Linked DNA regions of Homo sapiens. The protein of the gene in region 6 purifies or fractionates together with the protein of the main gene of each other region. This does not show direct contact. Each region holds a gene or a part of one and is shown on either strand. Other genes may lie near its edges. The genes, in order: TRAF3IP1, IFT25, IFT81, IFT88, IFT56, IFT80 and IFT46.

What was found.
Region 1: the proteins of IFT80 (region 6) and TRAF3IP1 purify together in Homo sapiens (affinity purification with mass spectrometry; one large-scale study listed by BioGRID and IntAct). This does not show direct contact.
Region 2: the proteins of IFT80 (region 6) and IFT25 purify together in Homo sapiens (affinity purification with mass spectrometry; 2 studies listed by BioGRID and IntAct, with this or other methods). This does not show direct contact.
Region 3: the proteins of IFT80 (region 6) and IFT81 purify together in Homo sapiens (affinity purification with mass spectrometry; one large-scale study listed by BioGRID and IntAct). This does not show direct contact.
Region 4: the proteins of IFT80 (region 6) and IFT88 purify together in Homo sapiens (affinity purification with mass spectrometry; 2 studies listed by BioGRID and IntAct, with this or other methods). This does not show direct contact.
Region 5: the proteins of IFT80 (region 6) and IFT56 purify together in Homo sapiens (affinity purification with mass spectrometry; one large-scale study listed by BioGRID and IntAct). This does not show direct contact.
Region 7: the proteins of IFT80 (region 6) and IFT46 purify together in Homo sapiens (affinity purification with mass spectrometry; 2 studies listed by BioGRID and IntAct, with this or other methods). This does not show direct contact.

What each region holds. Positions count from the first base shown.
Region 1 is NC_000002.12:238,322,779-238,327,772, forward strand, and holds part of TRAF3IP1 (TRAF3-interacting protein 1), read left to right. Parts: intron 1-2,527; coding exon 2,528-2,596; intron 2,597-3,030; coding exon 3,031-3,192; intron 3,193-4,994.
Region 2 is NC_000001.11:53,928,533-53,933,526, forward strand, and holds part of IFT25 (intraflagellar transport protein 25 homolog), read right to left. Parts: intron 1,614-4,994; coding exon 1,507-1,613; intron 1,412-1,506; exon of another isoform or gene 1,314-1,411; intron 1-1,313. UniProt on the Homo sapiens protein: Component of the IFT complex B required for sonic hedgehog/SHH signaling.
Region 3 is NC_000012.12:110,144,197-110,149,190, reverse strand, and holds part of IFT81 (intraflagellar transport protein 81 homolog), read right to left. Parts: intron 2,239-4,994; coding exon 2,143-2,238; intron 1-2,142. UniProt on the Homo sapiens protein: Component of the intraflagellar transport (IFT) complex B: together with IFT74, forms a tubulin-binding module that specifically mediates transport of tubulin within the cilium. Binds tubulin via its CH (calponin-homology)-like region.
Region 4 is NC_000013.11:20,688,211-20,692,492, forward strand, and holds the end of IFT88 (intraflagellar transport protein 88 homolog), read left to right. Parts: intron 1-2,494; coding exon 2,495-2,605; intron 2,606-2,843; coding exon 2,844-2,965; 3' UTR 2,966-3,234; downstream 3,235-4,282. UniProt on the Homo sapiens protein: Positively regulates primary cilium biogenesis. Also involved in autophagy since it is required for trafficking of ATG16L and the expansion of the autophagic compartment.
Region 5 is NC_000007.14:139,143,778-139,148,771, reverse strand, and holds part of IFT56 (intraflagellar transport protein 56), read right to left. Parts: intron 1,789-4,994; exon of another isoform or gene 1,628-1,788; coding exon 1,482-1,627; intron 567-1,481; coding exon 395-566; intron 1-394. UniProt on the Homo sapiens protein: Component of the intraflagellar transport (IFT) complex B required for transport of proteins in the motile cilium.
Region 6 is NC_000003.12:160,256,486-160,259,855, reverse strand, and holds the end of IFT80 (intraflagellar transport protein 80 homolog), read left to right. Parts: intron 1-1,220; coding exon 1,221-1,331; 3' UTR 1,332-2,870; downstream 2,871-3,370.
Region 7 is NC_000011.10:118,544,043-118,547,981, forward strand, and holds the end of IFT46 (intraflagellar transport protein 46 homolog), read right to left. Parts: intron 3,245-3,939; exon of another isoform or gene 2,106-3,244; coding exon of another isoform or gene 2,077-2,105; intron 1,812-2,076; coding exon 1,751-1,811; intron 1,453-1,750; coding exon 1,367-1,452; intron 970-1,366; coding exon 874-969; 3' UTR 501-873; downstream 1-500. UniProt on the Homo sapiens protein: Forms part of a complex involved in intraflagellar transport (IFT), the bi-directional movement of particles required for the assembly, maintenance and functioning of primary cilia. May play a role in chondrocyte maturation and skeletogenesis.

The DNA.
Region 1 (4,994 bases), on a different chromosome or scaffold from region 6:
GACTGGTCTGCTCTTCTCCCATAGACTTCCTCATCTAATGCCAAAGTTGATTTCTCTCCCTGTGTAAAGATAAATAAATTATGACCTACTTGATAAAGTTGTTAGAATGACTGACATATTGGAAAGGATTTTCAGATAATAGGTGGAGAGCCTCTTATGAAAATGCTTTACTGTACTGAATATTATACACACATTGCTATATTAGTATTTTAGCTATAGCTACACTAACCACCCCGTTTCATTAAGCTAAGTGTGGATACTGTGACGTTAATGTCTCTTGTCACTTACAGTTATTGTTCACAATTTTTTTTTTTTTTTTAGAGGGATTCTTGCTCTGTCGCCCAGGCTGGAGTGCAGTGACACAGTCTCCACTCACTGCAACTTACGCCTCCCAGGTTCAAGCAATTCTCCTGTTTCAGCCTTCTGAGTAGCTGGGACTGCAGGCACATGCCACCATGTCCAGCTAATTTTTCTATTTTTAGTAGAGATGGGGTTTCGCCATGTTGTCCGGCCTGATCTCGAACTCCTGACCTCAGGTGATCCGCCTGCCTCGGCCTCCCAAAGTGCCGAGATTACAGGTGTGAGCTACTGTACCCAGCCTATTGCTCACAATTTTAACTGCCAGCATCCTGGGAAAACCTCAACAGGGACAAAATGAAAATGTTCCAGGAATGTTAAATGCAGGATGCTCTTAATATTCTACCTGTCATCTCAAGAAAAACAGTAGCATAGCTCTTACATAGTGTGGTGTGGAATGAAAACTCCTAGATTCATTAATACCTAACTTGATGCAAATTAAGGAGTTGTGGCTTGATTCCAGAGGAGGCTCTCATTAGGGTGGGACTGTCTTGTTTTTAAAACATGTCTTCCCGTAATAAATATGCTTTATTAGCTGACCTAGGATATGTGGCTATGAGCATACCTGTCCTTACCACATACCATGCAGCCTGCTGGTAAGGGTCCCAGCTATTCAAAATGCTTGTTGCTACAAATTGTATTGATTTTACAGTAACCTACCACATTTCAAAAAACTGCAGTCTGAGACAACCCAGGACCCTGGCTGGGTGTGGTGGTTGAGAGGAACAGGAAAAATAATTGCCCTAAAAGCTGGTTTTAGGGCTAATTAGGAGGTACAGGTTACCTGAGGGAAGGGATGATTAGGGAGAGAACCAAAGCAGTGAGGTGTGGAGCCTGCCACCATCTTAAGAAGTGAGTAGTGACACGTGGTGAGGAGAAAGACCCTTGCAGAACTTCTAGTCTTAGCAAACTAGGTTGAGAAATTCCTTTTCTTTTCTTTCTTTTTTTTTGAGGCAGAGTCTCACTGCGTTGCCCAGGCTGGAGTCCTGTGGCATGATTCTGACTCACTCCAACCTCCACCTCCCGGGTTCAAACAATTCTGTTGCCTCAGCCTCCTGAGTAGCTGGGATTACAGACGCCCACCACCATGCCTGGCTAATTTTTGTATTTTTAGTAGAGACGGGGTTTCACCTTGTTGGCCAGGCTGGTCTTGAACTGCTGACCTCAAGTGATCCACCCACCTCGGCCTCCCAAAGTGCTGGGATTACAGGTGTAAGCCACTGTGCCCAGCCAAAGTTCCTTTTCTTTTTGGAATCTGTTCCCTCCATTGCACCTGAAGGACTCTTGTAAAATGCCGTTCCAGGTCCTCCTCGTGGTCCTTCAGCTCAGTTCATGTCCCTGAGTGGCTTCACAGGGCCTCTGCACCAGGCCCCGAGTGTCTCTCTGGCCTCAGGCTCCTGCTGTCCTACATTTCTTTTGATCCCTTGCAGGGGACTCTGTGGGTCCTGGACCTTGTGTGGACTTTCATTTTCTTTTTTTCTTTTTTTTGAGACGGAGTCTGGCTCTGTCGCCAGGCTGGAGTGCAGTGGTACGATCTCGGCTCACTGCAATCTCTGTTTCCTGCTTCAAGTGATTCTCCTGCCTCAGCCTCCCCAGTAGTTGGGACTATAGGCGAGCACCACCACACCCAGCTAATTTTTGTATTTTTAGTGGAGACAGGGTTTCACCATGTTGGCCAGGATGGTCTCGATCTTCTGACCTTGTGATTTGTCCGCCTCAGCCTCCCAAAGTGCTGGGATTACAGGTGTGAGCCACCACACCCAGCCGTGTGGACTTTCTTATGTTTGGCATGTGCATCCGAAATGTCCCCTTGCCCAACTCTTCTGTAAGCCTGGTCCCCATCTAGGTATGATTCCTCCAGGAAGGGTTCCCTGCCACTCCTGCTCCCTCCCGGATTGTGGATTAGGTACCAAGCCTGAGTGCTTCCTTAGTACCTGCATGGTGTCATCTTTACCTGTCTGTCCACACAGCCAGACTAAGTTCTGAGAGGATCTGGCTGGCTTCTGCCCTGCACAGCACGTGTAGTAGACATCAAATATTTCTTAAGTGGATGATTCAAATCTGGGCTGCTAGTCAATTCTGACATCTCCCAAGTGTGGAGTTGAGTGGATGAGGCTGATGAGGAGGCTGTCTGTGAGGTGACATGGTGGCCTTTCTTTCTCTCTTGAAGGTGATTAGAATGACTGGTTTCATGAAGGGCCTCTACACAGACGCCGAGATGAAGTCTGATAATGTGAAGGTGGGTTTGAGTCGGGCTTCTCCTATTGACTCCTCGCCTTAACGGATGGGATTTTTTGTAGGCCTGGTAGTGTGGCTTGTGTCATTTCTCTGCTGCATGTGGTTGGAATACAAGGTCAGTGAATTCGTAAATTGATATATATACCCTTTCTCATTTCATTTTCTCATTGTGGCAACTGGATGTCATGCTAGTTTTATTCACTGAAAAATGGGATTAGTATTTCAAAGGTTAATGCTAGCCCATCAACTAAATTAAAGGCTTTAATGAATTGTTTTTGTTTTGTCAGTAAAAGGTCAGTATTTCTAGATTTGTTATATATCTAAAAACAGCTTTGTATGTAAACAGAAACTATCCTATGCCTGGTAAACATACAGAAGATAATGCACACTCTTCAAAGTATTGTAATATTTGTATTTTCAATGGAAATGTTTCAGGATAAAGATGCAAAAATTAGCTTCCTACAAAAGGCCATAGACGTGGTTGTAATGGTGTCGGGAGAGCCACTGTTGGCCAAACCAGCCCGAATCGTGGCGGGGCATGAGCCTGAAAGAACAAACGAGCTGCTCCAGATAATTGGAAAATGCTGTCTCAACAAGGTACTACTGCTGTCCTGGCATTTTGAACTTACTTAGTACTTGAGTAAAAAGTAGTCGGGGGTGAGGGACTCACATGTGCGGGCGGTTTAGGGAAGGAGTTTCAGTGGTGTCTGTCAAACACTGTGCTTTGAATCTGATCCCACCCCTTCTGGAGCCCCAGAGATACAGAAGGAGTAATTTAATACTGAATGATAAAACAAATAAGGGTATGTAATACGCAAGTTCTGCAAGCTTTCAGTAGAAAGTCGGGAACCCTGCAGGCACACTGTGCCTGGCTGGAGGCTGGAGGCTGCAGGCCCAGGCTTCCATGCCCTCTGGCTTTCTCCTTTCTGAGGCTCCCTTGAGGACAGGTGGCTGCTTCCAGCCAGGGCTGCAGTGGCTGCAGGAGCTGCTTTTCTTCTTCCCTGGGTCTTATGGGAGTCTCTGTTCTCTTCCTCCATCTCCAGCCTCTGGTGTCTGCTTGCCTGTTGCCCTTCCTCTCTCTCTTCCACCTTTTCTCTCTCTCTCGGTTGCTGTTTCAGTTGTACGGGGAGTAGATTTTTTCTTTCTTGAGCTTTTCACTGTGGGCTAGAAACTTGGGTGTCAAGGCCTCAGGCTTCTCTAGTTAGGTCCAGCCTGGGCCATGTTTGCCCAAATGTTGGAGAAGGTCTTTCCCCAGGGTCTTCCTTCTTTTGAGGGCCGAGTAGTGCCCTGTGGAGGAGCAGGTTGGACTTGTATTGAGAGTGTAATTAATACAGTTTTTCACATACCTAGTGGGTGGTTGGCTGGGGGCTAACCTTAAATGTGACCCAAATGGGAACAGGTAGGTTTCAGCCCCCTCAACAGCAGTGGGTAGTGGAGGTGCATAGTGGTATCAGGCCGACTCCTAGGAGGCCCCCCCAGTGCAGGTCCAGCATGCAAACTTAGAGACTTGGAAGCAGATCTTGCCAGTACACTGGCCTCTGTCCCTAGGCTCCCCAGCTCCCCTTCCCGGGTCCTTTATGTTTCTCATCTTTCTAAAAAGCACATCTGGCTCCTGTCTCCTCTGCTGAATCATCTCCGGCTTCCAGTAGCCTCGGGTCTGGGCCAGCTCCATGGCACAGCTTGTGAGGCTCCTAGAGACCTGCTGCTACTTCTCTCCCTTCAGATCCTTCTCTCGTTTCCCATATCTGAGCCCTCCATTCCAGTCGCCACGCACCCCTGCATTCGGCCCTGGCCGGCTGTCTCCCGTCGGCCTCTTGCCCTGGTGCCTGCTGGCTTCTTGGTACCTGAGCTGCCTTCCTCCTCCAGCCTCACCCAGCAACAATGTGGCGTCTGTGAGTGCTTCCTTGAGCCTGGGCCTCTCCTCCCTCCCAGGCTGACTTAGGTGCCCCTGTAGGCTTCCTATAGGCTGTTGTTTAATTGTTGTGTTTATCTGTGTCCCCAGTACACGGTGTGTCTTTGGCCTAAATGGAGCCTGGCACGCGGCAATCACGCAGCATGTGCTTGTGGAATGAGTGCGTGAGTCAGTGGGACTCCTGACTGAGGTGTCCTGCACTCTGGATGGCTGTCGGGGATGCTGGAGAAGGAATTTTTGCGTTTGATGGGGCTTGAATCAGATCAGTGGTTTTTTACCCATAATTTTATTATTGTGTTAAAGTCCATAAAACATAAAATTTGCCATCTTAACCATGTTGAAGTGTACACTTCAGTGCTGGTAAATTCATTCATCTGCAGCCATCACCACCTTCCATCTCCAGGACTCTTCTCCTTGCAAAACAGACTCTGTCCCCATGAAACACTAACTTCCTCTTCTCCCGTACCCCAGCCCCTGGCACCCTCCA
Region 2 (4,994 bases), on a different chromosome or scaffold from region 6:
CAGTGGAACTACACAGAGCACTGGGATCAGAAACAACATGGAAGTTACTCTGTATGTTTCCAAAAAACCCTATGGTAAAATATAGTCTTGTGTAACTAATCTTCCAAATGTTCGCAACCATACAACACAGAGCAAGTAGAGCTTTTCTGAATTTGGCATTGTTCCGATTTTTTTGTGTGTATGGCGATAATACTACTATTGGTGGTCTTGGTCATAAACATTTATGGAGAGCCTATGATGAGTCAAACATATTTATCCATTCACTTTTGACTACAATCTTATGAGAAAGGTACTTTAACCCACTTTACTGGTGAGAAAACAGGTTTAGAGGAGCCAAGCAAGGTGTTCAATGATATACAGCTCATAAGTGCCAGAAATGGAATTCAAACTTTAGGTATGACTCTAGAACCTCCACGATTAATGAGAGAAGAGACTTATCAGGAATACAGTCATCTTCCTTCTAAACTGGTTTTTCTCCACTGCTCCAGTCCAGTCTCTACCACTCCAGATCCATTCCTCCTCTTCTTTGTCCTGTTCTGTGCCATGAGGGGCTAACCTCTGTGGACTCTATCACCTGGATTCATTTACCCACTGGCTTCTGATTGGATTGGATTTGGCCAGTGGGAGACACCAGGGGGAGACTGGGGTGGGGAAGGGAGATCAGCCAATTTTATCTCCACTCCCTCCCTGCTTCAGTGTGACATCTTTGACAGTTTCTCCTGCCTACAGCTCCTATTAGGCCCTTTTACACAGGCTTCAGCTCTCACAGATCTCTGATAACACTATTTCCTTCCCTGTGCCAGGGCTAGTTACAGCTTCCTGCTATAGCTAGTTTCTGAGGGCCTCATCATTCCTTGCCTTGTTTGTTCCCTTAACCCAGGCCATAATTTTGCAAGTAGCCCCATCAATAGAGCCTCTTCATTTGAACCATCTGGGATGTATTCTGTTTCCCGCCATGATTTTGTCTGATACATTTTATCTTTAAATAAATAGGATTAGAATGATGTCCCAAGGGAGATTATCCCCCTAAATTCCTGAGAAAATGCCACTAGTAATAGAAGAATCTCAACTATCCAATGTAAATAATCAGAGTTATCAGATTTTCAACAAGAATTTGACAAATAACTCCAGGACAAATGAATCTAGAATAAAGATGTCATGGAATAGTGTTCTAGCAAGCTGGAGTCTTATGTTCCTAATAGGGCCTTTTGCCAAAGACTTTTACATAGTAAATTGCATGGAAATTATTATGTGCTTTGGAAGGGTTTCGAATTTGCAGTTTGAGAGAGGCCAACTGAGCTCAAGGCATTTACCTCATAATCCCCATCCTTTCACCCCAGCAATAAAACTGGATTCCATGCTATAAAGAAAAACTAGTGTTTTGCCAAAAGTTTACATATATGCCTTCTGCCTGTGGAAAAAATGAAAGGATAATGAAAACTAAAATATTAGCCTTACCTGGAGCACCAAAAAAAAAAAAAAAAAATTAATGTAAGATTTGCTTACCAAAGTAACTTTGGATTACAAGCCTTTCAATCCTTACATGTTTGTGGAAACAAATAATGAATTCCTGGGGAAACATTCCTGTGGTGGTCCAAAACGTTTCTGGATTCCTATTGTTAATTTTAAAGAAAAAATAAGAATAGCCAAATATAAATGGTTAATCATAAAATTTTATTGAATACCTGTTTTTTAAAATTAAATGACTACTGGATTCTCACATCTCCTTTCTGTTAATTCTGCCTCTAATCTCTCTCCAACTTTAATAATTCTTCTTTACTACTACCAGGTATTCTTTTCTAAAACACAGAAACGGAATTGATGTCACTTCTATCTAAATGCCTCAGTGGTCCCTTTATTGCCTATAATTCTAAACTCCTTCGTATGGCATTTAAGACTGTAGGATCTGGTTCCACCATTAAGTTATAGTCTCTTCCATCACTGTGGTCACACTGGGCCACTTAAAATTCTGCAAATATGTTAGGCAGGCTCTTGCTTCTGTACCTTAGTTCATTCATGAGGTTTTTTTTTTACCTGAAAAACCGTTCTTCCCCTTGCATAAGTTCATTCACTTTCTGGTCCCATTTATCTAACCCCACCAAATCAGAATCACTTCCTCCCTCTTTTGCACTTATCTCATACTCAGCCTCCATCTCTACATTGGCACTTAATCTCCTGTGTTTCTATGGCTCCCACTAGATGCTGAGCTCTGAGTCCAGTTTCTTTCTCTTACTCACCTTTGTAACCCTACAACTGCTACAATGGCTCACCCATAGTAGACACATGCTAAATGTTTGTTCAAACAAAAATTAAAACATGCACTCAATTTTAAGTCATATATAGGCAAAATAGTATATATTATGGTTTTGACTACAGAAATAATCATTTCTATTTTAACTATATAAGCTTTTCTTTTTTTGGAAGTAAAATTTACCTACAGTGGAATTTACCTTAAGGGCATAACTTAGTGAGTTTTGATAAATGTATACGCTTATGTAACCAATACTCCAATGAAAATACAGAACATTTCCGTGACTCCAGAATTTCCCTTATCTTTCCTTCCAGACAATCCCTACCTCCCTTAGGCAACCAGTGCTCTGATTTCTATCACCACCAACTATGCTACAATGTTTCCATTCGTGATTTTGTTTGATATTTTTGTTGGGTATTTTAATTGCTTGCAGCTTTTTACTATTAGGAACAAAGCTGCTCTAAGTATTCTTGTACAAGTGCTTGTGAACATGTTTTCATTTCTCTGGGTAATTACTAAGAGTGGAATTGCTGGGACATAGGGTAAAAGTATATTTAACTTTATAAGAAACTGTCAGCTTTCCAAAGTGGTTGTACTATTTTGCGCTCCATTTTCTTTCTTGTCATGTCTTTGTCAGGCTTTGCTATCAGGATAATGTTGTTCTCATAAAACAATTTGGGAAATGTTTCCTTCTCTATTTTTGAGAAAGTTTGTGGAAGACTGGTATTTCTTCCCTAAATATTTGACCGAATTTAATTTCCATAATAGATATGAGGCTGTCCAGAATTTCCAATTGATCTTGTGTTATTTTTATAGGTCGAGCTTTACAAGAAATCTGTCCATTTCATCTAAGTTGTCAAATGTATTAGCTTAAATTTGTTCTTTATATATGATTCCTTTAGAATCTGTAGTGATATTACTTTCATTCCTGGTTCTAATAAATTGCATTTTCTTTATTTCTTGGCTAATCTTGTTAGAGGTTTATAACTTTTATTAATCCTTACAAATAATCAACTTTAGGCTTTATTATTTTTTCTAATAATTGTCTATTTTGTTGATTTCTGCTCTCACCTTTACTATTTATTTTCTTCTATTTACTTTGGGTTTAATTTGCTCATTTTTTTCTAGCTTCCTAAGGTGAAAATTTAGATTATTGGTTTTACATTTTTTTCCTTTTTAACATAAGTATATATGCTATTACTTTCCCTTGAGACACTGCTTTAGCTGCATCCTACAAATTTGGTATGTTACATTTTCAACGTCATTCTGTTAGAAATACTTTCTAAGGCCAGGCATGGTGGCTCACTCCTGTAATCCCAGCACTCTGGGAGGCTAAGGAGGGTGCTCACCTGAGGTCAGCAGTTCAAGACCAGCCCGACCAACATGGTGAAACCCCGTCTCTACTAAAAACACAAAAATCAGCCAGGTGTGGTGGCACATGCCGGTAGTCTCAGCTACTTGGGAGGCTGAGGCCCAGGAGGCAGAAGTTGCCATGAGCTGAGATTGCACCACTGCACTCCAGCCTGGATGACAGAGGGAAACTCCATCTCAAAAAAAAAAAAAAGAAAGATTTTCTAAGATCCCTTCTGATTTCTTTTTTGACCCATGGGTTATTTAGAAGTGCAGTGTTTAATTTCTAAGTTTTGGGGGGTTTTCTGAATATCTTTTTGTTGTTTATTTCTAATTTAATTACACAGTGGTCAGAGAACATACTATCTAAGATTTTAATCTTGAAATATATTGAGACTTATTTTATGTTTCAGCACATTTCAGTGAATGTTCAATATGCTGGGTTTTAAGAGACAGAGTCTCGCTCTGTCACCCAGACTGCAGTGCAGTGGCACAATCTTGGCTCACTGCAGCATTGACGTCCTGGGCTCAAGCCATCCTCATGCCTCAGCTCCAAAAGGAGCTGGGACTACAGGTACACGCCACCATGACTGGCTAATTTTTGTGTTTTTTCGTAGAGATGGGGTTTTGTCATGTTGTCCAGGCTGGTCTCACACTCCTGAGCTCGGGCAATCCGCCTGCCATGGCCTCCCAAAGTGCTGGGATTACAGGCGTGAGCCACCATACACAACCCATCAATACATTCTTGTTCCATGTTGTTGATTATAGTGTTCTATAACCGTCAACAAAGTCAAGGTTATGACATTATTCAGATCATCTATGTCTTTATTGATTTTCTGCCAAATTGTTCTATCATTACTGAGAAAAGGGTATTAAAATCTCTAACTATAACTGTGAATTTGTCTATTTCTCCCTTTCATCTGTCAGATTTTGCTTTATGTAGTTTAAAGAACTATTATTAGGTCCATATACACTTAGGATTATCCTCTCTTCCTTTTTCTCTTTTTTTTTTTTTTTTTTGAGGCGGAGTCTCACTCTGTCGCCCAGGCTGGAGCGCAGTGCACAATCTTGGCTCACTGCAAGCTCCGCCTCCCGGGTTCATGCCATTCTCCTGCCTCAGCCTCCCGAGTAACTGGGACTACAGGCATGCGCCACCACGCCTGGCTAATTTTTTTTATTTTTAGTAGATACGGGGTTTCACCATGTTAGCCAGGATGGTCTCGATCTCCTGACCTCGTGATCCGCCCGCCTCGGCCTCCCAAAGTGCTGGGATTGCAGGCGTGAGCCACCGCACCCAGCTATCCTCTCTTCCTAATGAACGGACTCTCTAACACTATAACGTGTCCCCTTTGTCTCTGGTAATACTCCTTGTCTTATATTTTTGTCTGACATG
Region 3 (4,994 bases), on a different chromosome or scaffold from region 6:
GCCTAATTCCAGGTCTAGAGTAGGAAATGTAAACGATGAGCCTAGAAATGACTTAAATAATGCAGAAAGCAAGGAAATTATCAAAGACCACTAGAATCTGAAAAGAAGTCAAAAGTTAACTTGAAAAGCCTCCCATTAGCCAAAACTGGGACAATTTGAGCATCATTAAGGATACTGTTTAAAACTTATAATGTCTAGGATTCATAATGAGATTAAATAAACAAAAAACAACAAAAAATAGCCCTAATTGATCACTTCACTGTTGGAGGATGCAAATGAGTTAGAGGAAACAAATTCATTATGAAAACTGATAAATAATGATAAAAACAAAGCATGTACCCTGCCTATCCTATATGAACTATAACTCAGGATAACCAAATAGTTGATGAGAGGTTTTCTCTTTATAAAAGTAGTCCAGGGCCAGGCACGGTGGCTCACACCTGTAATCCCAGCACTTTGGGAGGCCAAGGCGGGTGGATCATGAGGTCAGGAGTTCAAGACCAGCCTGGCCAAGATGGTGAAACCCTGTCTCTACTAAATATACAAAAATTAGCCAGGCATGGTGGTGGGCACCTGTAATCCCAGCTACTCAGGAGGATGAAGCAGGGAATTGCTTGAACCTGGGAGGCGGAGGTTGCAGTGAGCCGAGATCGCACCACTGCACTCTAGCCTGGGTGACAGTGAGACTCCATCTCAAAAGAAAAAAAAAAAGTAGTCCAGCTAATAAATGAAGAAGGAATCAAAATATGAATATTTTATAATTTATAATAAAATTAATGGATAAGCAATGAGCAATAATAGTAAGTGGCTGCTCAGACAACCGAGCATTATCACTTCCAAATAAAAGTATGTAATACCACCTAGAAAGTTTTCTTGCCAAAAAAAAATCAAACCAGATCTGTTCAAGCTCCTAGTTCTAATTTATAGGAAATACGGGAAACAAATGAACATGGTAAAACAACACCATAGGGTTGCAATCAGTAAAACACAAACTGTTAGAAATATCATGGGAAAAATGAACCAGTTTTGTCAACACATATATTGCCAAAAAGCACTAAATAGATAAATCGATGGGAAGAGAACATATGGATTAAAAGAGACAAACTTTCTGGGACAGATAGGTGACAGCAAAAAATAAATAAATAAATAAATAACTTATCAGCCAAATGCAATATATGAATCCTATATGGATCTTAATTGAAAAAAAGAGAGACAAGGGAATGTCATTGATTTCCTGGCTGACTGAATATTTTCTGATATTAAGGAATTATTAAAATTTTCAGATGTGGTATGTTGTGGTTAAGTTAAAAAGCCTTTATCTTTTAGATATATATTCTGAAACATTTATAGATGAAATGTTATGATGAAGTCTAAGATATGCTTCAAAATAATATAGTTGGGGTTGGCAGTATAGAGGAAACAAGAATGGCCATGAGCCCTGTAGCTCAGGGACACATGAGGGTTTATTGAACAATTTGCCTCTACCTTTGTAATTGATTGAAATTTTCCGTTATAAAGGTTTTAAAAAATTCTAATGTCCTTAAATAATGCTTTGTTATGTAGCTTAGTATTTTCTGAGGTTGTAGAGTGCTCTTCACACTAAAATCCTCCTGCCTTGGTTCTTTTCAGATAAGCCATGGCCTTCATTTGAATCTTTTATAGAAATATACAACAAGATAAGTACCCTCAAAAACTAAGTGACAATTTAGTTGTGGATAAAATAATAAATGCTTTAGCACTAAAATTTAATTTATTCTACACTTGCAAACTAACTTTAAACTTGAAAAAGCATACTGTTATTAACTCATTAAAAATTATAAATATTTTTATTTATACCACCTAAGGTAAGTTTTCATTTTAAAAATAAATTCCACAGTCACAGATACAAACACAAATAGCTCTATTACCACAGTTCGTACATGCTAAGGAAACTAAGCATTATTAGGGGTATCGTAATTTCAAACTTGAATAAGCATCTTTTGTGGCTTTTCCACTAATTCTTTGATATACTATGGAGATTAGCAGTGACAGAACAACATTTATTCTCTACTTCCTTCTCACTTTAAGACTATAGATAACACAGCCAGTGGTTCATGAATATGCTTACAGATCTAAATATGTGAGCCAAAAGAATGTTCTTACCTGTTGCCTATACAGTGAGAGTTTGCCTTCAATGGGCTCATTTCTCATCATTTTCTTTTCAATCAACTGGTTAATTTCTGTGTTTATTTCATTTATCTAAAATAGCATGAAAGCAAAAAAAAAAAGTTAAAACTTTCCCTATAAGTACACAAACTAAGTGACGTCTGGCCAAACCAGCTTTGAATTTATGGTTCTTTTTTTTTAAAGACAAGGTCTCAGTTTCACCTAGACTAATTTTTTTTTTAAGAGATGGGGTCTTGCTATGTTGCCCAGACTGATTTTGAATTCCTGGGCTCAAGTGATCCTCCCACCTTGGCCTCCCAAAGTGCTGGGATTACAGACGTGAGCCATGGCACCCATCTGGAATTTACAGTTCTTAACATTAAGTCTCTGATGGGCAAAACAGTTTCATTAATGTTATGGGGAGCTTGTTATGATTACCTTTAGAAACAATTTACATTTCATGACATATAATTACACAGTTTGATTACTTATATAGATTTAATCATCTATGTCTAAATTATCCTAAAGTATTTTACATGAAATATTTATACATTACCACAAAGATGCTTTCTAAAAATCTGAAGTTATCCCCTCACCTACGTTGTGACTTCAAGTCACTGAAAGTGATAAAGCAAATGTGAACAAATATGCACCAGGGATTTATTACAATGATTCATGAACCCAGCTGACAGTTGACAGGGATAACACCCTTCCTGTGCTAATAATCTGTGATTCTTCGATAACTATCATTTATCCTAATCATTAATCTAAATCTTTCCAAAATGTAATAAAACTGAATAAATCTGACAGAAGCATATAGTTCCTCAACATATCAAAACAAAAACCATGGTTTTCAGTGTATCCATCCTTTGAAAGATTAGAGTTCTCTCTAACCCTAACCCTAATTCTGTGACATTAAATTTTAGCCAGATTAGGCCGGGCACGGTGGCTCACATCTGTAATTGAAGCACTTTGGGAGGCTGAGGCGGGTGCATCATCTGAGGTCAGGAGGTCGAGACCAGCCTGGCCAACATGGTGAAACCCCGTCTCTACTAAAAATACAAAAAATTAGCTGGGCTTGGTGGCATGCACCTGTAGTCCTGGCTACTCCAGGGGCTGAGACAGGAGAATCACTTGAACCCAGGAGGTGGAGGTTGCAGTGAGCCGAGATCGCACCACTGGACTCCAGCCTGGGTGACAGAGTGAGACTCCATCTCAAAAACAAAACAAAACAAAACAAAACAAAATTTTAGCCAGATCTGACTTGGACATTTAATTTTTCTAAGTAAATTAAAAGAATAAAACAGTCAGGCCTGGGCGCGGTGGCTCACACCTGTAATCCCAGCACTTTGGGAGGCTGAGGTGGGTGGATCACAAGGTCAGGAGTTAGAGACTAGCCTGGCCAACACAGTGAAACCCCATCTCTACTAAAAATACAAAAATTAGCTGGGCATGGTGGCAGGTGCCTGTAATTCCAGCTACTGGGGAGGCTGAGGCAGAATTCACTTGAATCCAGGAGGCAGAGGTTGCAGTGAGCCGGGATCACGCCACTGTACTCCAGCCTGGGCAACAGAGCTACACTCCATCTCAAAAAAAAAAAAACAAAAAAAACCAAAACAGTCAGAATTATGTATTTAATTGTAGTGGCTATTAACCACATAGTAAGCACACTAAAGAATTAGCAAGTCAAAACATTTCAATTAGGCTGAGTGCAATGGCTCACACCTGTAATCCCTGCACTTTGGGAGACTGAGGTGGACGGAGGCAGGCAGATCTCTTGAATCTGGGAGGTCAAGACCATGCTGGGCAACATGGCCAGACCCTGTCTGTACAAAAAATTCAAAAATTGGCCAGAACTGGTGGCATGCACCTTGTAGTCCCAGCTACTTGGGAAGCTCAGGTGGAGGATCACTTGAGCCTGGGAGATGGAGGCTGCAGTGAGCTGTGATCATGTCACTGAACTCCAGCCTAGGTGACAGTGTGAGACTCCGTGTAAAAAAAAAAAAAAAAAAAAAAATTAGGCATAGTGGTGTGCGCCTGTAATCCCAGCTAGTCGAGAGGCTGAGGTAGAAGAATCGCTTGAACCCAGAAGGTGGAGGTTGCAGTGAGCTGAGATTGTGCCACTGCACTCCAGCCTGGGCAACAGAGCAAGTTCCGTCAAAAAAAAAAAAAAAAAAAAAAAGGCACTGCACCTGACCTAGCATTTTAATTCTAGGGAACAAAAATGGTATAATCAGGCCAAGCACAGTGGCTCACACCTGTAATCCCAGCACTTTGGGAGGCTGAGGCGGGCAGATCACCTGAGGTCAGGAGTTCAAGACCAGCCTGGACAAATGGCAAAACCCCGTCTCTACTAAAAATAAAAAAATTGGCCAGGCATGGTGGCACATATCTGTAGTCCCAGCTACTTGGGAGGCTGAGGCAGGAGAATGGCTTGAACCCGGGAGGCAGAGGTTGCAGGGAGCTGAGATCTCACCACTGCACTCCAGTCTAGGCAACAGAGCAAGACTCCGTCTCAAAAAACAAAACAAGTCCTGGTGCGGTGGCTCATGCCTGTAATCCCAGCACTTTGGGAGGCTGAGATGGGTGGATCACAAGGTCAGGAGTTTGAGACCAGCATGACCAACACGGTGAAACCCTGTCTCTACTACAAATACAAAAATTAGCCAGGCGTGGTGGCGCGTGCCTGTAATCCCAGCTACTCAGGAGGCTGAGGCAGGAGAATCGCTTGAACTCGGGAAGCGGAGGTTGTAGTGAGCCGAGATCACGCTACTGCACTCCAGCCTGGGCAACAGAACGAGACTCTGTCTCAAAAAAAAACAAAAAACAAAACAACAACAACAAAAACA
Region 4 (4,282 bases), on a different chromosome or scaffold from region 6:
GTAGCGCATGCCTGTAATCCCAGCTACTCGAGAGGCTGAGGCAGAAGAATCGATTGAACCCGGGAGGTGGAGGTTGCAGTGAGACAAGATCACACCATCGCACTCCAGCTTGGGCAACAAGAGCGAAACTCCATCTCAAAAGAAAAGAGGCCACCCTACAGATGATGGATTTTCACCTTGGTTCTAATGTAGAAAACAAGAAGAGCTCTTTTGATAATTCCTAACCATAAGTAAGCCTTCACTCACATAGTTTTGGAGCTAGAATACATATTATATCTGTGTGTTCTGAAGAACACCAAGCTGAAAATTTGATTTAAAGTGGACTTCAGTTGGTGAGGCTACAAGGTGCCTACAAGAAATAAACTTAAATCCTCCTTGGAGGAATGCACTTTTAAGTTCCAAAGAATAAGAACCTACAGTTAAGAAAAAGTATGCATGCATGAGGAAATAAGTCACTAAGAGTAAGCAACAACAGAAACTATAGAGTCCAATCTTCAAAGACTACAAATATTGTAATTATTATTTATTTATATTAGAGATGGGGTCTTGCTGTATCACCCAGGCTGAGTGCAGTGGTGCTGTCATAGCTCATTGCAGCATTGGACTTCAGGGCTCAAGTGATCCTCCCATCTCATCCCCACAAGCAGCTGGGATAATAGGTGCATGCCACTCTGCCCAGCCAAGTTTTATTTTTTATATAAGCACTTTATTTTTATTTAATTAATTAATTTATTTATTTATTGAGACAGAATCTCACCCTGTAGCCCAGGCTGGAATGCAGTGGCACGATCTGGCTCACTGTAGCCTCTGCCTCCCAGGCTCAAGCAATTCTTCTGCCTCAGCCTCCTGAGTAGCTGGGATTACAGGTGTGCACCACCACGCCCGGCTAATTTTTGTATTTTTAGTAGAGACGGGGTTTCACCATGTTGCTCAGTCTGGCCCCGAGCTCCTGACCTCGTGATCTGCCTGCCTTGGCCTCCCAAAGTGCTGGGATTACAGGCGTGAGTCACCGTGCCCGGCCCCAGGTTTTATTTTTTAAAGGTTTGCTTTTTCCACAAAATTTGAATCTTTCAGGCTAGGAATTTGGATTTGGATTTCAGAAGGGTTTTGGGTGCCTGAGGGAGCTATCAGGGTTTTGTTGGTAATTTACATCTGTGTAAAAAGTGAAATAACGTTGTCGTATTTACTAATGAGGATGTGTTTCTGACATTCCACAGTATTCCTCAGTGAGCAGTTCTGTGAGGCATTTCCATCTTATCTCTGTAATGAGAACACCTACATTTTTGTGGAGACATTGGTTGTCATATCTTATGTACCCATGAGTCAAAGAACTGTGTATGCCCTTGCCCTTCGTTGACTGCAAACCCTAAGGCAAGAAGGCCTGTTTGGACCACTCCCTGCCAACTTTGTTTTATGTTTCTCACCCAAACTTTTCTTCTCACATACTCATTCATCTTTTAAAAGATTGCTATATAGTTATTGTGTATATATTTGGTGGCTTATCTTAAACCTTTTTGGAGACAGGTAGGATATACATTATTCAGAAAAAAAAAAGTAAAAGAAATATCCCTAGAGCAATGTTTTTCAAACTTTATTGACTTGAGCTCACTCAGGCAGTTTAAAAGACACCCGTATACATTTCTGCATGGAAAAAATTAACTTTTGTTTTAACAAAAAGAGAGGGACAAAATAATGTAAAATATACTAAAGTGTGTAGACATATTCAGTACACTAAAGAGCTTTATTTTCCCGTAACATCAGTGGTAGGGGAAATGGTAAGGTTTTGGATAAGAACCTTAGAGAAGACTTACTATTTTGGGTCAGTTGGCCAATCTTAAAATGTGGGGATTTTAAAGACCATCTTGTTCTGATTTATTCCCAGAGACATTATCAGTAAACTAAAAGACAAACTATATTCAAAAACGAAATGGTCAGTGTGTTTATCAGTGGACTACTCTCATTAAAAGTGAGGCTTACATAATAGAAAAAATATCACTCTAGGAATTCTAAGGGGAAGAAAGGAAAACTGTGGGGCTAGAGGAGTACTTTTAGAAAATATCACAGAAATTTCTGGTTAAAAAGTACTACTAACATTTCCTACTAATGTTAGTGTTCAGTTTTATCTGAAAATCCTCAGTGATACATATTACATTTTTTCCTAAGGCAGCCATTGCCTATTTGGGCAATTATAAGAGTCAGGGTGATCTCTTACTTTCTCTTAAGTTCTTCCATAAAATTGAAACCTATAAGTAAGCACACATTTGAAAGAATACATATACAGACTACTCTTAAGTGATGTTTTATCTATATTATAGATTCCCACAAGATATTTCTTTTAAATTTCAGAAAACAAGAATTATATCCCTAAGAAGCTGGCTTCCAAATTAAACAACCTGCTTGTTTCTTGGCAAATAAGTATGCTTTAAGATGCATAATGTAGTTTTATGTTTTCTCAACATATTAAACAAATGCATTTTTATTTTCGTGTTTTCAGATAGTGGCCAGAACTATAGTGCCAGTAGTAAAGGTGAACGACTAAGTGCCAGACTCAGAGCTTTACCTGGGACAAATGAACCTTATGAAAGTAGCAGTAACAAAGAAATAGGCAAGTACTCTCCACCCAGTTCCTCCAGGCATAGCAGGTCTGAAGAAGAATGGTGAGATGGCCAAAAGGTGTTGCTGGGAATTCTTAAGAATTTGATATTTACAGATAAAATTTAAAATGACTTGGGAGACCATTTCTGTTCACTCTGAGTTATTCATTTTGACTATGAGCCTGATTGGTTTCACATTTGTTTTGTTTGTTTACATAACTCTAACGTGACAATCTCTTCGAAACCTAGATGCCTCCTATGTGGACCCACTTGGCCCTCAAATAGAACGACCAAAAACTGCAGCCAAGAAAAGGATCGATGAGGATGATTTTGCTGATGAAGAATTAGGAGATGATTTGCTTCCAGAATAATATTCACTTTAATATTTATTAAAGGAAAGAAATTGCCTTATGAGATCATCCTCATGTTAAACCTTGGATTAAATATCTAACCTGTAATTATTTTTTTTCACTGTCAAAACTTAAGTAAGTGTATTCTATTCTGTATGTATGCATTTAAGTTGTTTTTTTCTTTTAAGGAATAAAAACAGGTAAAACTAATACTTTAGGCCAGTGACTTCCTTAGCTTTTTGAAAACATTGACACACAGGAAGAAATAAATTTCATAACACAACCTAGTACATATATGTGTATGTAGTCATAAAAATTTACCCTTATTATTGCAATACATGCTAATATTTTCTATAGTTTCATTCAAACAAAGTGCTAGTAGTGAAGCCACTACATTGATTTCATGGCTTGCAGATTGAAAAATGCTGTGTGGACATAGGCACAATTTCTATTCATACTTAAATTGCTTGGAGTTTGGAAATTCTTTGGAAGATTTGCCTTGTGGGGATTAGAAACACTATTAAAACAATTATGTTTTGGAAGCAGTATAAAGGGTAATGGGATTAAATACCAAACCATAACCCTAGTGCTCCTTTCCGAAGTTCCTTTCTACTTCAGCCCGGGGGTGTGCACCAATAGCACAGAGCAGTAACAACTCTAAGATGGCTTTTCCCATTTGTGACTTAGTGGGTTGGGGGCAGGACTGCCTGCATTTTTCTTTAACAATGTGTTTGGCTGGTCTAGAGTCTCCAGAGGAATTATAATGACGAGGATGTCAGAAGCAGTGGCTTATCTCTAACACTATACCAAAGAGAATGGACCCCTCAATCTTACTTACCATTGTCTCTGCAACGTGCATGCTACTGTTAGATGCGAGGGAGGAAAACCAAAACTAGACCACATTCCTTGCTCCCAAAGTAGGTTATGCTCTAATTGATGAGACAGCCAACAAATACAGTAAACATCCAGTATGTGCAGAGAATTCATTAAAATTTGGGGGATACAGTAGTGAAAAAGAACTATACCTTGCCCTCAAGAAGCTTAAATTCTGGTGGGGAGATGGAAAATATATTTTGTTTGTTTGTTTGGGTTTTTTTTGAGATGGAATCTCACTCTGTCGCCCAGGCTGGAGTGCAGTGGTGCAATGTTGGCTCACTGTAACGTCCACCTCCTGGTTTCAAGCAATGCTCCTGCCTCAGCCTCCTGAGTTGCTGGGATTACAGGCACGCACCACCACACCTGGCTAATTTTTGTATTTTTAGTCAGACGGGGTTTCACCATGTTGGCCAGGCTGGTCTCGAATTCTTGACCTCATGATCCACCCACCTTGGCCTCCCA
Region 5 (4,994 bases), on a different chromosome or scaffold from region 6:
TTTTTTGTATTTTTAGTAGAGATGGGGCCATGTTGGCTAGGCTGGTCTCAAACTCCTGGCCTCAAGTGATCTGCCCGCCTTGGCCTCCCAAAGTGCTGAGCCACAGCGCCCGGCCAGAAGCATTTGGTTTTAAACATAAGCATTTGGTTTTAAATGTAGGGCATCTCAGTAAAATCATCTACAATTTAATGGACATAACACAGATAATTCAGAAGTCAACATTCTTTTTAGAATACCTGATAAACATATAATTAGGTTCTTATAGAATCACAGTGGCAATGATAAAGGGATATTAATCAAGAGTTACAGATAACAGAGTTTCATGAATAACTTGGAAAGTATAAAGTAATTCAAATTGGAATGAAGTACATTAAAAACACACTTCCATCAATACCTCAGCTGCTCTGCCATTGTAAAGGCGAAAATGGTTACAGGCTTTAAGATTGAGTGCGATGGTACTATCAGGAATTTGCTGAAGGTAAACAGCCAAAACTTCTTGAGACACATCATAGTAATCCAACTTGTAGTAGCAGAGGGCCACATAAACATTAAGGGCAAGGTATTCCCTATTAGATGAAAGAATTAGGGTTAACCATTTAAGTCTACTTCACGGAAATGTCAAATTACAAAGCTCAAATGGACAAGGCAAAGAGGACAGTTCATGAACCTGCCTTATGAAGAAAGAGGGCAAGATATGATCAGTATAATTTTTTTCTTTTTGCATTGCAATATTTGGGTGTTTTGATATAAGTAGAATGAAAGATGACTAGAGAAGAAAGGGAAAGTTCACGCTGTTCACACTGAAAAACTAATATATGCAATAATTGAACATAAACACAAGCACACTCCACACAGAAGACCAACAGACAAGACACATAGGCTTGATGGCTGGAAATGGAAGCAGGTAGGAGACTAAGAAGGTAATGCAAAAGAGGATGGAAAGAAGGGGGATGAGATATTTTTGGGAAGGGAGAGAGAGGCCAAGTGTTTAAAGTTGGAATGTAAATTCTTAAGAATGATTTGTATCTAATTTTGTCAGCAAGTTACCTACGATGTAACTATAACACTAAGTTTGATACATCTAGACCATACATTTCAACTGGGGTAATATCAGTATTACCCCCAAAGGGGAAAAATTGGTTCTTAATGGGAGGATGAAAAAATCATAATCATTTTATATGTAAAGCACAGTTATACATATAGTACATATATGGATATATATTAATATACATCTATCAGTATATTAAAATTTCATGGGAGGGCAATTGGGGGAAAAAGTCTTTTAGAAGGGTGACAATGCAAAAAAAGGTAGAGAAAGCCTGATTTAGACAATATCTAATTCTTAATCTCACCAAATTATCAACTAAACAGATTTGAACACATAGTGGTACTAGATCCAGAGGACACTAGATTCTCAAACTAGTTAAAGAAGAAACTAACAAAATGAAAGGAATGGAGAGTGGGCATAAAAGGACACAGACCTGTTATCTAGCAGTATTCGCTTATATATATCTATAGCTTCTTGGTAGTGAGATCGCATATAGTGGATTGAGGCCAAACTGAGTTGATCTTCTGTGACATCCTGAAGATTTTGATGAAAGCTCATCAATTTTTTCTCATCATTAAACTAAAATTGTGAGAGTGGAAAAGACATGTAAAGATTCATATTAGTGTTGTTAGAGAAATCAATATCTATGTGATAGAGATTTTAACTCTTCCTTCTTTAGCCATTGTGTCTCTCTCTTCTTCCTATTTCCCTTAGGTTCTTTGTCTTCTACTTCATTTCTCCTGCAAAGAAACAATGGAAATAGCCTCTGGAGGCATAGCTTGACAACGACAATGGAAAGCCCTTAGGTTACAGTTAATACTATTTGACCCTTCCCCTTATCTTTTCTTTTTCTTTATATTTTCTCCCTTTCCTTTTCTTTTTCTGTCTACTCTCTTTACTATTACCTGGTAACATTTTTAATCTGTTCTTTCTTTCTTCTTTTTTTTTTTTTTTTTTGAAACGGAGTCTTGCCCTGTCCCCCAGGCTGGAGTGCAATGGCACGATCTCGGCTCACTGCAACCTCTGCCTCCCAGGTTCAAGCAATTCTCCAGCCTCAGCCTCCCAAGTTCCTGGGATTACAGGCGCATGCCACCACGCCCGGCTAATTTTTTGTATCTTTGGTAGAGATGGGGTTTCACCATGTTGGCCAGGCTGGTCTTGAACTCCTGACGTCGTGATCCGCCCACCTCAGCCTCCCAAAGTGCTGGGATTACAGGTGTGAACCACTGTGCCCAGCCAATCTGTTCTTTCATATCTCGTTCTTCTTGGTAGACAATAGGGAATCAAAATGTATTTCTCATCATGTAACCTAGTGTATTCAATTTTTAATTTCCTGCTCTACATTTTTTCATCCTTTCTTCAGTTACTATATATTGTTGTTGTTTGAGATTGTCAGAATTCTATTCCAACCTTGTAATGCTTATTTTGTTAGATGGCTGCCGCAAATATTAGCTGCCTTTTGCTTATATATGGGGCAGAACAGATATATTTTTGACAGTGACCCTTAATATGTAGATTGCTCACTCCTGCCTGTTACAGAGAATGACTTATTAGCTTAAAAATTTTGTAAAGAATTGTCTTCTGTAGACTATCTAGTTACATGGAAAAATGTTCATGATACATTTTTAAGTGAAAAGCCTGGTTATAAAACAGAATATATACTATGATACAAATTTGGCAATATAAATATACACATATATACACATATAAAAATACAAATTTTTTAAAGACTGGAAGAAAAGAGAGTAAAATATTACAGTGTTAGCTCTAAGTGGCAGTCTTACAGGAAATCTTGATTTTTGTGTGTATGCAATTTGCTATTTTCTAAAAGTACTATGATGAACATGTATTATTTTTGTAATCAGAAGAAAAACACAATAAAATATATTTCTTTAAATTCAATCAAAGACTTTCACTACTAATAATATTAGAGTAGCTTGTAGTATGCAGTGCTCCCACCAAGAACATCTAGAAAATCTTAAAAACTACTGAAAAATCTGTGTAAAAGGGGCAGGGGCAGTGGCTCACGCCTATAATCCCAGCACTTTGAGAGGCTGAGGTGAGCAGATCACTTGAGCTCAGGAGTTTGAGACCAGCCTGGGCAACATGGTAATACCCTGTCTCTACAAAAATTGGCTGGGCATGGCAGTGCACACTTGTAATCTCAGCTACTTGGGAGGCTGAGGCACAAGGATTGCTCAAGCCTGGGAGGCAGAGGTTACAGTGAGCTGAGATGGCGCCATTGCACTCCAGCCTGGGTGACGGGGAGTGATATCCTGTCTCAAAAAAACAAACAAAAAAAATCTACGTGAAGGGTTCAGAGAGCTACCAAGTGAGTGAAGACTTGAGATACCAAGATCCCAAGCAGAACAGAAGTGCAAAGAGGTGATTCTGATATTTAGTACCATTTTTTTCTCTAATGGTACCTATCAATTCTCAATTGGTGGCTGAGTTGCTGAAAACTAAGCGAGCTTCAAGAAGTCTTATGGGCTTAATGGACAAAAAAATAGAGATTGGGGCCCACCAAGCTATCAGTTGGGACCCCTGGAAAGCTACCCTAGAAACAGAGGTAAAATGGAAATAGACCAGCTTTAAATTGTTGCAATCTCTGACAGGTATCAGTTGATTTGCCCCTTTTCTATGTGCCTGCCAGAAGTAAAAGTAAATTCTAAATCCTCTCTGGAAGAAGACAAAAGCATCCAGAGACTCGAATTATCTCTCTATATTTTAATATACAATAGCCAGCATTAAACACAATATTGCCAAGCAAACCAGGAGATAAGAACATTTGACTGAAAACCAGGAAACAGCTGTCCAGAGATACACTATTGGAATTACTAGACATGGACTTTAAAAATAACTTATTATCAATATATTTAAGAAATTAAATTAAAAATTAGGAAATTTTAACTGGAAATTAGAAATTTAAAAAGTAATAAAATGTAAATTCTAAAAATAAATACAATAACTGAAATTAAGAACGAAATAGATAAATGGAATAGCTGGTTAGACACAGCTGAAGAATGATGATTAGTAAAATAAATTTCTGTGGAAATATACAGAAAATGTGACAAAGTGTTTACATGCGATACAAACAAAAGGTCTACATACATACATACATACATATTACTGGGAGCCTAGAAGGAAAGAAGAGAGTATAGAGCAGAAGCAAAATTTGAAGTAACAATGACCAAGGATTCTTTTAATTAAAAAAAGAAAAGACCTCGAGCAAGCACTATGAACCTGATGTAGTGTAATACAAAGAAAACCATATCTGGGAATATTATAGGAAAAGTGCTAATAACAAAAACCAATGTATAAATCTTAAACATGATCAGAAAAAAAATCTTCATAGGAGCAACAATTAGACTGATGGCTAACATCTCAGTAGAGACAAGGACCTAGGAAGCAATAAAGCAACATCTTCAAAATGCTAAGCAAAAATAATTACCTACCTAGAACTCTACACTGAGAAAAAAATCCTTTAAAAAACCATAGTCAAATAAAAATATGTTTAGACAAAAACTGAGAGAATTCATCACCACTAAAGGAAATATTAAAGGAAATTCCTCAAATGGAAAATGATTTCAGATAGGAGCACAAACATGCAAGAAGAAATGAAGAGCAATGGAAAGGAAAAATATGGCTAATTATAAATGAATATTAACTGCATAAAACAGTAATAAAACAGTCTTATGGGATTAGAAACATATAGACACTTAAAATATTTTTCAAATTTGCACATAAGATGGAGAGTAAATGAGTTTAAATGATCTAAGGTCCTTTAATTTTTCTAGAAATTGGTAAAAGTACTAATCAATATCAAACTTTTTAATATGCAAAATACACATGATATGGTAACTGCTAAAATAATATTCCCAATGTACATAACTAGCAAGCAAATCGAGGATAAATATATAGTTTTAAAAATCAATCCAAAAAAAGG
Region 6 (3,370 bases):
TCAGAGTTAGTTTAATCTATGACCCAATTTTTTCCATGTCTTGCCTCAGAAAGGATAAACATTCCTAAATTAGTGATCTCCAAACTTTGTTAACTGGTAGAATGTGCTTTCCTAAAGAAGTTGCTCATAGAACTCAGGGGCAGAGTCTATTCCTAACAAGTCTAATGAACTTAAGAGAGGAATAGGGCTGGGCTAGGGGAGGGGAGACTGCATAACGGATAGAAGGGAAGCAAACAAATAAAAATGTTTGCACTTTGCAGTTATTCTTTTCATGTGTTTCCCAGTCTTGCTTTCCCTTCGCTTTCTCTAACATCTTTTCCTCATTGTCTTAATGACCACCATGTCTTACTTTAAGAGTTGGTGCAAAGGAGCCACTTTCACAGAATATGCTTAGGGGAAGCTAATGAATCCCTGTCTTTCCTCATAACTAGGCTTCCAGTGGAAACTGCAGTATATAAGATGTGAAGCCTATTTGAAAAATGGCTTGGTAACCAGAGTCCGGTCCACTTTTTCCTCGTTTGGAAGACAGCGGTCCATCTCATCCCCTACCTTGTCCCTGAGCACGTGTACACAATCCTAAGGCTCCATGGGACTGTTTAGATGTACCTTTATAAATAGCTGTGACTAGATTTTGGTCTTTTAAATCACAATGAGAGTCTTTGCTTTTTATTATATAATTCTTATTTTTTGGTCTTATTCTTAAAACTACTTTGTGGTTTTTGAGCATTATTTGTTTTTGTTTTTTTTGAGACAGGGCCCTTGCTCTGTCACCCAGGCTGGAGTGCAATGGTGCAATCACGGCTCACTGCAGCCTTGACCTTGAGGGCTTAGTTGATTCTCCCACCTTAGCCTCCCTAATAGCTGGGACTACAGGTGTGTGCCACCACACCCAGCTACTTTTTTTATTTTTTGTATTTATTTTCCCATCTCGGAACTTTGCCATGTTGCCCAGGATGTTGTCAAACTCCTAGACTCAAGCAATCCACCCACCTCAGCCTTCCATACTATTGGGATTACAGGAGTAAGCCACTATGCCTGGCCAAGCATTATTTCTTCTTCTTAACTTTGATGCTCTCTTTTTCTCTAATCTTTTGATGCTCTCTTTTTCTCTAATCTTTTGGAAGTCACACAGTCTATCTGTTTACTCTTAGTTACTTTGGAGTAAACAAAAATGTCTTACACTATCTAAGCATATTTCTTCTTTTTTTTTTCTATTGCAGCTCCAAATAGATTGGGAGAAAATCAAAGCCAAAATTGAGATGGAAATTACAAAAGAAAGAGAGCAATCATCAAGCAGCCAATCCAGCAAGAGTATAGGTTTAAAGCCCTAAATGCCATGCGTATCTTTAAGAAATTTTATCTTTTGAAACACGTTCTGATTAACCAAGGGTAAGCATGTTTTGGTTGCTAAAGAAAAAAGCATAATCTTTAACCGAGTATAAGTACTTGCTGTGTATTTAGTGTAAAAGTACATGCAGAAAGATGAAACACAAAGTAATTGATGTATTTCTATCTTTTATATTTTTTAGTCCAATAATTAGCAAAATATTACTATGTACTTAAGAGATACCTGTGTAGTGTCGATTATATGTCAGTTTTTTGCCCATTACTTCATCCCTAAATCTTCAGCATGAACAAATATTAATGTCGATAATAAAACATTGGACTCTTTGAAATGTATGTTACCATTAATTTCTATTTGACCTCTAAATTGTAAAATGCCTCCAAAAGTTTATTTATAGAACAAAAATACATGAGGATGGATTTGTACAAATGTATAAAATGCCACTATTTATACACCAAGTTCATAGCAGCATTACTGGAATAGCAAAAGATGGAAACAGCTCAAGTGTCTATCATGAATGGATAAACAAATGTGCTATAATACATACAATGGAATATTATTTAGCTTTAAAAAGGAATGAAATTCTGATAAATACTACCTCAGGATAAACCTTGAAAACACTATGCTAAGTGAAATAAGCCAGACACAAAAGGCCAAATATGATGCCACTTTTATGAGGTACCAGCATAGGCAAGTTCACAGAAACAGAAAGGAGAATAGTGGTTGCCAGGGACTGCAGGGAGGAGGAAATGGGGGGTGGGGTTATTGTTTAACGAGTACATAGTTTCTGTTTGGGATGAACAAATTCTGGAAATGGATAGCGATGATGGTTGCTCAACATTTTGAATGTTAATGCCACTAAATTGTACCCATAAAAATGGTTAAAATGGTAAATTTTGTTATGTATATTTTATCATAATTTAAAAAATATATCTAGAATGGGCAAGAAGGATTCTCCTCATTCCTCTCTTGACTTGAGAATGATCAGTCAATAGGCCCTGAAGTCTGAATTTGTGAAAATTTCCTTGGGTGACAAACTTGTTTGATTACTCTATTTAGTGTATCCCAAAGTTATTACCACATAATCTTTTAAACAATAAAACAAATACCCCTTAGAAAGTCTTCTGCAAACCCATTTCTGAAAATGGTACATTATAGGGTGGGTATAGATGCATAGATATGGGATTATGTATGATATATATATATATACACACACACACAAAGGGATAGAGAGATTACCTCTCTTAACCCCCATTTTAATTACTATGTCTAGGTTTTTTAAATAAAAATCTTTTCTTTTTAACATGTTTCTTTTCTTTTCCGGAATATTGGAATATTCTGTTCTTGATCCAGATGAAATCTGATTGAGCAGTGTACTTACAAGTTGTACTGTGTATGTGTTTCCTATATTGTTATATTTCAATAAGAAGCTTAAAATGTTTAAAAATAAATGGTTAAAAGGTTTTATGTTATGTATATTTTACCACAATAAATGCAAAAAATAAAAAGTCTGTGTTCTAAACAATTCTCTCATATCCTAGAATTCAATCCAATTCTAACACTAACTACCTAGAATTAGAAACAGATCCCACAAGTTAAAGGGCAAGGTTCCCAAAAAGACTGCCTTTATTTATTTATTTGTTTATTTATTTTTTGAGACAGGGTCTGGCTCTGTCACCCAGGCTGGAGTGCAGTGGCCCCATCACAGCTCACTGCAACCTCCGTCTCCCGGGTTCAAGCAATTCTAGTGCCTCAGCCTCCTAAGTAGCTGGGATTACAAGTGCCCACCACCACACCCAGCTAATTTTTGTATTTTTAGTAGAGACAAGGTTTCACCATGTTGGCCAGGCTGGTCTCAAACTCCTGAATTCCTGACCTCTAGTGATCCGTGCTCCTCGGTCTCCCGAGGTGCTGGGATTACAGGCATGAGCCACCGCACCTGCCCTAAGACTGCCCTTATTTTAGACTCCAGCCACAATCAGAGTCCCCAGGCTACTCACACTTGTGTCTGACTTGGCTGCACAT
Region 7 (3,939 bases), on a different chromosome or scaffold from region 6:
CATGATCTGCCTGCCTGGGCCTCCCAAAGTTCTGGGATTACAGGCGTGAGCCACTGTGCCTGGCTAAACACCCTTTGTTAGAAATAACTAGCATGGTTTCAGACTTCCTGACTGGAGCTTGGCTGACATAACTCCAAAATATTTACTGAATCTGTCCATCTCTACTACTGCCACCCCAATCACCTCTCACCTGGATTACCGCAATAGCTACGCTCCCTGAGACCAGAACCAGACAGGTCTGGAGCCAGACAGCCTCAGGAAGGCGGCATTAACTGAAGAGAGACCCTTAGAAAAATTAAATTCCAGAGGAAAAATGATTCCCCTCGACTGCCAATCTTGGAGGATTGGGGTTTCATTTTATTTCACAAAATTTGTTTGCTTTAACTACTCTTCATTTAATGCCCATTACTAAGCAAAGTTCCTGTGTCTCTGCGTTATGCTCAGTCAGCCTTTTCTCTTTCATATTAAATAGCAGAATAATCTGACAATATAATAGAGCATTTGATTTATAAAATCTTTACTCACTAACTTTACGAATGAAAGAAAACAATTCCATCCCTCTCACAAAAAGGACATCTTTTAAGCTTTCCTCCCAATCTAACCTCCATGGGATCTCAGAAATTCCAATTCTTATAACTCAAATCCCCACAGTGGTGTAGATGCATTAACTCCCCGGGGACAGCAATCTGAGGCAGGCAGGTTCATTAAACAAACATGTTCTGTGCCCTCTGGCAGAGAGGGCAGCAGGACATGCACTGCCCCTGAGCCAAGCTGTGGCATGGGCAAGGACATCAAGTAGCTGACAACGATCTGTCCATCTCAGCTGGGGCAGAGGGGCCAGCTCAGCCTTGAAACAGCAGCTTGGGAAGTGTCTCAGCTGAAGGTTAATGTCTCCATGTCTCCAGCTTGGGAGGTGGAATTGGATGAAGGAGTGAATGCTTTCTTGCCTTCAGCGAGAGCTTTAAAATGCTGCAAGGAAGAGGAGAGGGAATATTGAGTATTAGGGATATGCTAATTGCTATATTTTAACAAGAATTAATTTCTTTAAAATGAACCCCCTTTATTTCCTTCCTGCTTCCATTCATGAGGGAACTTGGTTCTGAAAGAACGAGTGTCCTCTGTAGATCCTCACCTGATTTCATCTAAGGCCCACAACTCCTACTTCCACCCACCCTTTTTTTTCCTCCACTTTCCCCTTGAAAACTCCATCCCTGCCTCCTTTGCTCTCCTAATTATGGGAAAGGGCGAAGGTAACTGGGCAGAGACATCCTACATCGCTATAGGATGCAATCACAGCAGGCTCAGAACAGTAGAAACTATAGTGATCCTCTCTACAGCTTAAGTCAACCCCTGATGCTTGGCTCACCTGTGAGTTCTTGAATTCTGAGTAGAGGGAAAAGAGCAGATGGAGGGACTGGATCCGACTCTTGTAGACAGGGATGTCTAGAATGGCTGAAACGAAGAAGAACTTCCAGGAACAGAAGCAAACAAACTCCGGGAATTAGAGGCCCTTCTGTCTAGCACAGGCAAAGCCCTGGCAGATGGGGTGTCGCTATGACTTTGGGGGTTAAATACCCAGCAGGTAGTCACATAAGCCAAACACCACCTTTGAGTGCTGCCAAAGAGCACAACGGGCTTAAAGTGAAGGCTGAAACTCAAGATACTATCTTCCCAGAGTAAACAAGCCTGTCCAAAAGCCTAGAGTGTCTCTATCCAGAGATGGGGACGAGGAAAGGAAAGAGGAACTCACCACAGATCATGTCAATGTACTCTGCCAGGCTGCAATCAATCTCTGCCGTGGGCAGGCTTACCTGGAAGGGGCATGGAAGGACCAAAGTCAAAAGGATGGTGTCAGTGGTCCCAGAACCACTCTCTCTCTCTGAAGCAAAAGAGCTTCTAGCATAAGACACAGGTTATGGGCTGAAATGTGTTCCCCTAAAATTCAGATATTGAGTTCCTAACTCCCTGTACTTCAGAATGTGACTATATTTGGAGATAACATCTTTAAAGAGATAATTAAATTAAAACAAGGTCATTAGGGTGGGCCTTAATCCAGTATGACTGGTGTCCTTATAGGAAGAAGAAATCAGGACAAAGACGCATAACAGAGGGAAGACCATGGGAAGACACAGAAGATGGCCAAGAAGAGACCCCTCAGAAGAAATCAATCTTGGTGGGGCGTGGTGGCTTCACGCCTGTAATACCAGCACTGTGGGAGGTTGAGGTGGGCAGATCGCCTGAGCCTAGGAGTTCGAGACCAGCCTGGGCAACATGGTGAAATTCCATCTCTACAAAAAAATTAGCCGGGTGTGGTGTTGAGTATCTGTAGTCCCAGCTACTTGGGAGGCTGGGGTGGGAGGACTGCTTGAGTCCAGCAGGTTGAGGCTGCAGTGAGCTGAGATTGAGCTACTGCACTCCAGCCTGGGCATAGAGTAATACCCTGTAAAAAAAAAGGAAGGAAGGGAGGGAGGGAATCAACCATGCCAACAAATTGATCTTGGACTACTACTGGACTACTAGCCTCCAGAACTATGAAATAATACATTTCTGATGTCTAAGCCACTCAGTCTATGGTACTTTGTTATGGCAGCCTAGCAAAATAATACAACATGCTATTTTTTCCCCCGATCAGTATGGAATTGGTCATATGTTTTATAGGTAAAATACACTGCCATACTCTTTTCCTGTGGGAATCTGTGAAAAAGAAACTGATACCAAGTTATGGGCAAGTATTAACAGTTATATATGCATTACTTGGTGTTATAATGCCTAATGATTCCAGGACACCATATGAACAGAGAAAATGGGCATGACATCTAACTCAGGTAACAGGCTCTGGATCTAAACAAGTCACAGTGTGAAGTTTTTAAACTACTGGTTTCTTAAAACTTTTCTCTTTTTACAAAAAACAGAGTACATATAGTTCTGCAACTTGCTGCAATTTGCTTTTTTCATTTAACAACATATCACTGATATTTCTTCATATTAGAGCAAAATAAGGCCAAATAATATTCCATTGCATAGTATTTCACTGAATGGATGTACTGCAACCTAGCTATTCAATCCCCTAATCAGACACCTTCCCCTCAACTACAGCTTCAAAATGCTCTGAGGAAAGAGACTGTTTCCAAATTCTGTGTGTTTACAATCAATTCTTCATATACAAAAAAAATCTGTCTTTGTAGAGCTTACATTTTAGTAGGGAAGAACAAAATAAGTAAATAAAGTCTATGGTATGTTAGAAGATAAGTGTTATCAAGAAAAAGCAGGGACAGAGGGCGGGGAATGCTGGGGAGCTGGTGCAGCAGTTTAAACATGATGGCTAGGAAGGACCTGTTGGTCATCTTTGTTCAGTTTCCTTTTCTGTTTTGATACTTTAAAAAAATTCTTTTTTGAGACGGAGTCTTGCTCTGTTGCCCAGACTGGAGTGCAGTGGCATGATCTTGGCTCTCTGCAACCTCCACTTCCTGGATTCAAGCAATTCTCCTGTCTCAGCCTCCTGAGTAGCTGGGATTACAGATGTGCGCCACCAGGCCCGGCTAATTTTTTTGTGTTTTCAATAGAGACAGGGGTCTCACCATGTTGGCCAGGCTGGTCTCAAACTCCAGACCTCAGGTGATCCACCTGCCTCAGCCTCCCAAAGTGCTGGGATTACAGGCATGAGCCACCGTGTCCAGCTCCTTTTACTTTTCTTTTCTTTTCTTTTTTTTTTTTTTTTTTTTGAGACAGAGTCTCACTCTTTCGCCCAGGCTGGAGTGTAGTGGCGCTATCTTGGCTCACTACAATCTCCGTCTCCCGGGTTCACGCCATTCTCCTGCCTCAGCCTCCCAAGTAGCTGGGACTATAGGCGCCCGCCACAGCGCCCGGCTAATTTTTTGTATTTTTAGTAGAGACGGGGTTTCACCATGTTAGCCAGGATGGTCTCGATCTCCTGACTTC